Linked DNA regions of Homo sapiens: all the other regions are linked to region 2. The links come from fine-mapping of genetic effects on gene expression. A gene starts in region 2. Each other region holds a variant in brackets. All regions are shown on one strand. Distances are from middle to middle.

Evidence for each region. PIP is the estimated chance that this variant, and not a neighbour inherited with it, causes the effect.
Region 1: its variant is fine-mapped to the expression of DGCR8 in CD4 T cells (Kasela 2017, PIP 0.95).
Region 3: its variant is fine-mapped to the expression of DGCR8 in whole blood (INTERVAL, PIP above 0.99).

Annotation. Positions count from the first base shown.
Region 1 is chr22:20,103,048-20,105,680 of GRCh38, forward strand. The region is part of intron 9 of DGCR8 (DGCR8 microprocessor complex subunit); the gene reads left to right. Among named protein-coding and RNA genes, the nearest start is that of MIR6816, 10 kb to the right of the region's middle. The variant T/C (reference allele first, on the strand shown) is at 1,186.
Region 2 is chr22:20,079,076-20,081,708 of GRCh38, forward strand. It overlaps DGCR8 (DGCR8 microprocessor complex subunit), which reads left to right and starts at 1,166. Exons shown (of 14, transcript NM_022720.7): 1 at 1,166-1,308. RefSeq lists a silencer at 1,045-1,664 and an enhancer at 1,925-1,984.
Region 3 is chr22:20,042,387-20,045,019 of GRCh38, forward strand. TANGO2 (transport and golgi organization 2 homolog) reads left to right here. Exons shown (of 9, transcript NM_152906.7): 3 at 969-1,057. Among named protein-coding and RNA genes, the nearest start is that of MIR185, 11 kb to the left of the region's middle. The variant G/A (reference allele first, on the strand shown) is at 1,193.

The DNA of each region.
Region 1 (2,633 bases), 24 kb after region 2:
CTTGAACCCAGGAGGCGGAAGGTGAGGTGGCAGTGAGCCGAGATTGTGCCATTGCACTCCAGCCTGGGCAACAAGAGCGAAACCCCATCTTAAAAAAAAAAAAAAAATCTGCCTGCATTTTGATTGGAATTGATCCTGTAGATCAATCTGGGGAGAATGGACATCCTAACAATATTGGATTTTCCAAATCATAAACATAGTTCATCTGTTCATTTATTTAGGTCTTCTTTGATATCTTTCATGGGTGGTCGGCAGTTTTCATCACACAGGCCCTGTGTATATTCTACTAGATTTATAGTTAAATATTTTATGTATGGCACTGTGATGAATAGTACCTTAGTTCCAATTGATTGTTTATTGCTAGCTTACAGAGCTAGAATTTGTTTTATTTGCACTGATTTATTCTAGTAGTTTTTCTGTAGATTCCTTATCCAGTTTTCTTCTCTAATTTGTTAATGTAGTTAATTACGTTGTTTTTTTAAAAATGTGTTCCTGGGATAAGTCCTACTTGGGCATGGTATATGTTCCTTTTCATGTGTTAATGGCTTTAATTTGCTAGTTCCCTGCTGCATCTGTGTTCTTGGTGTTAAGGTCATGGTACGGGTAGTGTCATCAAGCGAAGTGGGAAGTAGCCCTCCTCCTGAGTTTTTCAGAAGGGCAGGACAGATATAGGATTGGTATCATTTCTTCCTTAAAATTTGGGCCTGGAGTTTTCCTAATGGGAAAGTTTTAAACTACTACTGTATGAACTACTAACTATAACTATGACTACTCTGAACTACTGTTGAGTTTCTTGAACAGGTGTAGGGCTGTTGAGGCTACTGAGATAGTTTGTGTCTTGCCAGGCATTGGTCCATCTCATATAGATAGTGGAATGTAGAGGTGTCGGGCGTCTGTGGTGCTCCCACACGGTCCTTTGGCATCTGCCAGGCACTGATTGCTTAGGTTTCTCCTGTGCTGTTTGTCAGAAGCAACAGGGATTTGTCTGCAGGTCACTTCTGCCATCTGTCTGCTCTCATGAGCTGGAGCCTCCACCTGTCCCTGGCGGGTTAACCCTCAGTAGCACATGTGGCCTCAGGCAGCTTGGTGCAGGGCATCCTGGTGTCGGTCTTTTTTTTTTTTTTTTTTGAGACGGAGTCTCGCTCTGTCGCCCAGGCCGGACTGCGGACTGCAGTGGCGCAATCT[T/C]GGCTCACTGCAAGCTCTGCTTCCCGGGTTCACGCCATTCTCCTGCCTCAGCCTCCCGAGTAGCTGGGACTACAGGCGCCTGCCACCGCGCCCGGCTAATTTTTTTTTGTATTTTTAGTAGAGACGGGGTTTCACCTTGTTAGCCAGGATGGTCTCGATCTCCTGACCTCGTGATCCACCCGCCTCGGCCTCCCAAAGTGCTGGGATTACAGGCGTGAGCCACCGCGCCCGGCTGGCGTCGGTCTTTTGCCAGAAACTTCTGAGCGTGCTCTCTAGCTGTGTGTGTGTCAGCCACTGCCTCAGCTTCTCCAGGGCCAGTCCCGAAGCCGTGGGGTATGTGGGTTCTTGTGGGCCGACAGCACTGGACGTTGCTAATTGGTTGGCTGGTTGACAAACCCTTGAGGTTCCAGGGCCTGATGTCTTGGTGAGTGACCTTCCCTGGAAAAAGACCCATGTTGATTTGTGCACTTGAGAGGAGCAGTGTCTTCTGGGGACCTATTTGAAGACAGTAGCCAAGCCATACCTCGAGGATTTTTCGCTTGCCAACCTCAGGGCTAGTGCCTTCCTCTTCTATGCAGTTGCAGCGAGTTGGCCTTGCTGCTTGCTGGAGCGGCGAGGGCAGAGGAGCTGCCCACTGCCCTGTCTGTAGGGCCAGTGTCCCTGTGGAGCGGGCTTGGCACACTGTGGAGCCTGCACAGCGAGGCGTGTGAATCATTTGATTCTAGGTTTCCTCGCTGCCCATGGGCCAGGCAGGCTCCAGGTCCCTGCAGACCCCTCCAGAACAGGGCCAGTGGGGGAAGCACTGTGAGGGTGTGGCTGATGGGTAATCTCCAGTGCTTCAAAGTGTGGTCTTTTTTGGAAAGAGGATGATTGCAGATAGAATTAGGTTAACATGAGATCACACTGAAGCAGAGCAGTGGTGTGATCCAGTGTGTCTGGTGTTTCTCTAAGAAGAGGGAGGAGGGGCAGGGCTAGTAGTCCATATGAAAATCGGAGCAATGCTGCCATAGCCAAGGGATGCCGGGGCCACCAGGAGCTGGCAGAGGCTCCCTAGAGGCTTCTGAAAGAGGATGGCCCTGCTGAGGCCTTGATTTCAGACTTCAGAATGGTGAGAGAATAAACCTCTTGTTCTAAGCCACTGACTTTGTGGTATGTTGTCACAGGAGCTCCACCAGGGAGGTTGTCCATGCTCCAGAGTGGGCTGGATAGCATCTTCCTTTCACCCAGGAGGCACTCTCAGCTTCAGCCAAAGTCCTAGTCTGGGAAGGCACAGTGGGCAATGTCTCTGCACCTCAGCCTGCTGCAGCTTCCCTATGCCTCACTGTGTGGAATCTCCCCATCACCTCTTGTTTCCCTGTCTGCCTCTCTTGTCCTTCCTGTGTGTTCTTGGGTTGGCTGCAGAGCCAGGGTGATGACACTGTTGGAAGCCTTGCTGGGCTGGGCCTCTG
Region 2 (2,633 bases):
ACTCAGACCCTCGTTTTCCTTTTTTTTTTTTTTTTTTTTGAGACGGAGTCTCACTCTGCCGCCCAGGCTAGAGTGAAAGTGGTGCTATCTCGGATCACTGCAGCCTGGAACTCCTGGACTCAGGTGATCCTTCCACCTCAGCCTCCCGAGTAGCTCGGACCACAGGCGCCCGCCACCACGCGGCTAATTAAAAATAATTTTGGGCCCGGCGCGGTGGCTCATGCCTGTAATCCCAGCACTTTGGGAGGCCGAGGCGGGCAGATCAATTGAGGCCAGGAGTTTGATACCAGCCTGGCCAACATGGTGAAACCCCGTCTCTACCAAAAATATAAAAATTAGCCGGGCGTGGTGGTGGGCGCCTGTAATCCCAGTTACTCGGGTGGGTGAGCCAGGAGAATCGCTTGAATCCGGGAGGCAAAGGTTGCAGTGAGCTGAGATCGCGCCACTGCACCCCAGCCTGGGAGACAAAGCGAGACACCGCCTCAAAAAAAAAAAAAAAAAGAAAGAAAATTTGTAGATACTGGGCTCTCACTATGTTAGCCAGGCTGGTCTCGAACTCCTGGGCTCAAGTAATCCTCCTGACTCGACCTCCCAAAACTCTGGGATTACAGGCGCAAGCCACCGTGCCCGGCCGAACCACCGTGCCCGGCCGAACCCTCCCTGTTTTGGAAATCCTGTATTAGCAAAGGGGACAGCGCCAGACAGTTGAGCACACGCGTTCTTTATAAATGATGATGTCTGATACAGTGATGCTTTTAACAGGGTTGTGTAACGCCTGTGTGTGCACGGTCTCTTCTGCAGTGTCCACCGAAGGTGGCCCGTCTGCGTGTCCGCTCCCGGCGTACTCCGCGCTCCCTGTTCCCGGCATTCCCCGCGCTCCCCGAGCTTCCCGCGCTCCCCTGCTCCCGGCATTCCCGGTGCTTCCCGTTCCCGGCGCTCCTCGCGGCCGCCGCCCTCAGTCCAGCGAGCCCCGCCTGGGCAGCGACTGTTAGCGCGACCGCGGCCTGGGCGCCTGGTCCCTCCCGCGCGGCCGCGCTATTGGGCCGCGCGCGGCGGACACACGCGCTACGCGCCGCCGATTGGCGGCCTCCGCAGCGCGCTCTGCGGCTCCCCCAATGCGGGGCGGCCGCGCGCGGGGATTGGCCGCACGCCGCGAAGGCCCGCCCTCCGCTCGCCCGGCGCGGCAGGCGGGTGCCGGCGACCGGAGAGCCTGGACAGGCTTTCCAGATGGCTGCGGCGGTCGGTCGGTGAGGCTTTCCCGGCTGTGGTTTGGCTGCGGGCGGCTTGGGCAGCCCGCGGGCGCCTCAGGTAGGTGCGGGGCGCGAGGGGCGCCCGCGGGCGGTTGGGCGGGCGCCGCGGCCTGCGCGAGGGCGCGCCCTTCCCTCCCGCCTCCCTCCGGGACCGAGGCCGCGGGCGGGGCGGGGGCGCGGAGCCCGGCCTTTGTGAGGCAACATGGCCGCGGGCGGTGGAGAGCGCGGGGTGGGGACGCCTCCGGGGCTGGGGGGCGGGCCCCGGGCCCAGGCGTTGCCGACTCTCGTCGCTGTCCGCCCGGGTAAAGAGGCTCCTCTCCCGGAGGGCCCGAAGCCTAGCATCGCCTTCAGGCGGGAAAGGTGTGGACAGGGCCAGTGCTCGCCTGGGACCCTGCCGGCTTTAACACAGTTTGGGAAATCCAAGAAGTCGCCTAAGTCTTTTTGTCCACAGAATGCTCACGGGTTGAGTGTCACGTAGATAATTGGGATACGGTTTTATTGTAACAATGAGCATGGCGGAAATAAATGGAAGGTGGCAACCTGTTGACAGTGATGCCTGTCTGGTGTCAACCGATGGACTTGGGTTTCTTGTGGCAGGAGTCTGATTTGCCTTTTTGCATGCTTGCATGTACCTTGTTCCTGCACGGCAGTCCTGTCTTTGGCTGTCGACTGTTCGAGGCCAACCACCAGGCGAGGATCCACTGTTTCCTGGCCAGACTAGACTCCCAGCTGTGGGAGTGGCCCAAACCCTGCTGCAGGCCTTCACTCACAAAAGGGAGTGAATGGCCAGCCCGGGGTACCCAGTGTTGCCTCTAAGTGCGGGATATGAGGCCTGTTGGAGGATGACAAAAGGAACGGATGAGGTCATACTGCCGCTGGGTTGGGCGGGAGGCTGCAGCGGGAGAGACTTGACCAAAAGGCAGCCTCCATGGCGCTGGCACTGGTGCTGGCCCGTCACAGCCAGTGCCTCTGTTAGCCAACACAGCAAGTGGGCTAGGAGGAAGGGTGCTGTCCAAGTGTACGGGTTTTCTCCCCGTGCCAAGGGTCCAGGGGAGCTTGCCGTGAGCCCGTTCCTGTCCGATAGTCCTGTTGGCAAGGCAGGGTTTGCATGCGGTGTTTGGTCAGCTGGAGCAGTGGGGAGGCCTACGGGCAGAGAGCTCCCCTTTGAGCCCTTTGCGGCCAGGCGCTGTGTGGAGCACTTCCCAGGGGTTGTTTTGTAGTCTCACCGTGACCTTGGGGTAGGAAATGTGCTTCTGGCTGGCTTGCCCAGTCTTAGACTCTCTTGTTGTAGCCCTCTCCTTTGTGATGTCACCCAGCCTCCTGACTTTAATGCCAGCTTTCCTTGACATCTTCACAGCTCCAGCCCTGGCCTCTCTTCTGATT
Region 3 (2,633 bases), 37 kb before region 2:
CAAGCTGGGACTTGAAAGTCAGTTTTCTTTCCTCAAGACCAGGGCTCTTAAAGTTTAGATGTCTCTCCTAATTCCAAAAGAAATATTTGTTTGATTAGGCTGGATGTGGTGGCTCACACCTGTAATCCTCCGCCTCGGAGGCCGAGGCGGGTAGATCATTTGAGGTCAGGAGTTCAAGACCAGCTTGGCCAACATGGTGAAACCCCATCTCTACTAAAAATACAAAAAATTAGCTGGGTGTGGTGGCGGGTGCCTGTAATCCCAGCTACTCAGGAGGCTGAGGCGGGAGAATAGCTTGAACCCGGGAGGCGGGAGTTGCAGTGAGCCGATGTCACGCCACTGCACTCTAGCCTGGGTGACACAGAGAGACTCCATCTCAAAAAATAAAAATAAATAAAAATGGAAATATTTGTTTGATTCATAATGCAAAAAAACTAGTAAAACAGTGAAGTTCCCATCCACTCCCAACCAACCCGAGAAATTAACTCCAAAACACACAGAATGGAGCAGCCCTCAGAGGCCCACATGCTGTGCCATTCAATCTGTATCCTTGAGCTCACGCTTCCAAGAGCCCACGGGTTTGTTGTGGGTGTTCCCAGGGCTGGGGACAGATGGACAGAAGGAGGAACAGCCCCCCACCCTCCAGCCTGGGCTCCCGGCATGGAGCCCAGGCTCCATGGTGCCCCTAAGGGCCTGGCAGACCCGTCTCCCGCCATTGAATGGTGTGGATGTGTGTCCCTGCCTAGCATCCTCCTGTTTCCCGTGCGGTCCCAGCTGCAGGCTCCCGAGAGCTCACCTGGAGCCACGGTGCTCCTTCCTCCAGTGTGGGTGCAGCAGGACTGCCGGCTTCCTGCCCTCTCTGAGACTGGCCCTTGTTGCCACTGAGGCCAGTTTTGTGTGTGAAAAGAGAAAAAGACTTGGCTCGCTCGTTTCCATCTGAAGCCATCAGTGATGCTTTCCTCTTGCAGGCTCATCTTGGCAGCCAACAGGGATGAATTCTACAGCCGACCCTCCAAGTTAGCTGACTTCTGGGGGAACAACAACGAGATCCTCAGTGGTGAGTCTTCCTGCGTGCTCAGCGGTGGCTGCGCCTTGTTGCTTCCCTAGCCCCTGCGTGGCCCGAGTGACCCTAACTGAGTGGTGCTGCTTCCAAGTGTGATGGCGGGGTGTAGAGGTGGAACTGATGGGGCTC[G/A]TGGTCGGGGCCAGCCCCAGCACCGGGCATTGCCAGAGCTGCCCACCCAGCACTGTCTGCGTGGCTTCCTGTGCCATGCGTCTGCATGGGGGCCCCATCATGTGAAAGCATCAGTTGGTTTTATATGGATCCCTCCTTTTTGCTGAGGGCATGTGGGTGGATTTGTGTGATGTACAGATCCACACTCAGTCACTTTGTGAAGCAACCCAGTCATATGAGTGTGTGCATGCGTGTGTATGCGTGCGTGTGTGTGCCTGTGTTTGTGTTTCTGTTTGTATATGAGCACCCTTGCTTCAGGGATGGTGGGGCTGAGTTTGGGAAGCTGGTGGTGCTGAAGCCCCGTCACCTGCACCATGCCTGTGTTGCATTAGGTGTACTTATAGGGCAGAAGTAGGGGTGAGAACCAGGTCCTCCCCACCAAAGATACCAGCCTCATTGAAGTCCTGTTGGACAGGAACCAGTTCCTGCCCATGGGGTGGTGGGAGTCTACCTGGAAGGTGCGCATAGATGGCTGGTGAGGCCACGGGTTACTCTGCCTGCGTACCAGGCGCCAAGTGGGCCCGAGGCATCCTGGCATGCTCCAGGGTGCCCACTCAGGCCAGATGTGTGACCTCGTGGGCCCATGGAGGCTGTGTGTGCCCTGTGCTGCCTCCCAGGCCGGGAGGGCAGGTGTTGGGATTATAGGTGTGAACCCAACACTTAAGGAGGCTGAGGCAGGAGGATTACTTGAGCCCAGGAGTTCAAGACCAGTCTGGGCAACATGGTAAAACCCTGTCTCTACAAAAAAAAATACAAAAATTAGCCAGGCGTGGTGGCATGTGCCTGTGGCCCCAGCTACTCAGGAGGCTGAGGCTAGAGAATTGCCTGAGCCCGGAAAGCAGAGGTTTCAGTGAGCTGAGATTGTGCCACTGCACTCCAGCATGGGTGACAGAGCGAGACCCTGTCTCATTCAATCAGTCAATCAATCAATCAAATAAAAGCTCAGCTGTGGGGTTTTGTGAGGACTCCTGTGTAGGCCTGTGGCCTGGCAGTAGTGTGAGAATGCTGCTGAGGCTGGGTGGTCCCGGCACCGTGTGGGAGGAGGACGGGTGCATGGAGACTGAGGCAGGGTGGTCCTAGGCCTGCTGGTATAGGAGGATGCAGTGGGTGCAGGGCTGGTCAGGACGGGTGGGTGAAGGCACAAGACTGATGTCCTTGGAAGGTGGAAGGTTTTCATAGATGAAGATGTGGCGGCTCAGAGGGTTACCCTCTTCTGGTTCCTTGACTATTGTGCCCTCCTGGGCTCCATCCCACCCTGGCACCCAGGTCTGTCAGCTGCCTCTGAACTAGTGCCAACCCCAGCAGCTCCAGTCTTGTGGAATTGTTCACCCCTGTGGTGTTTTGATGGTGGCAGCTGGTGCATGGATGTACACGGGCTTCTGCCAAGTGTCGGGGTGACCAT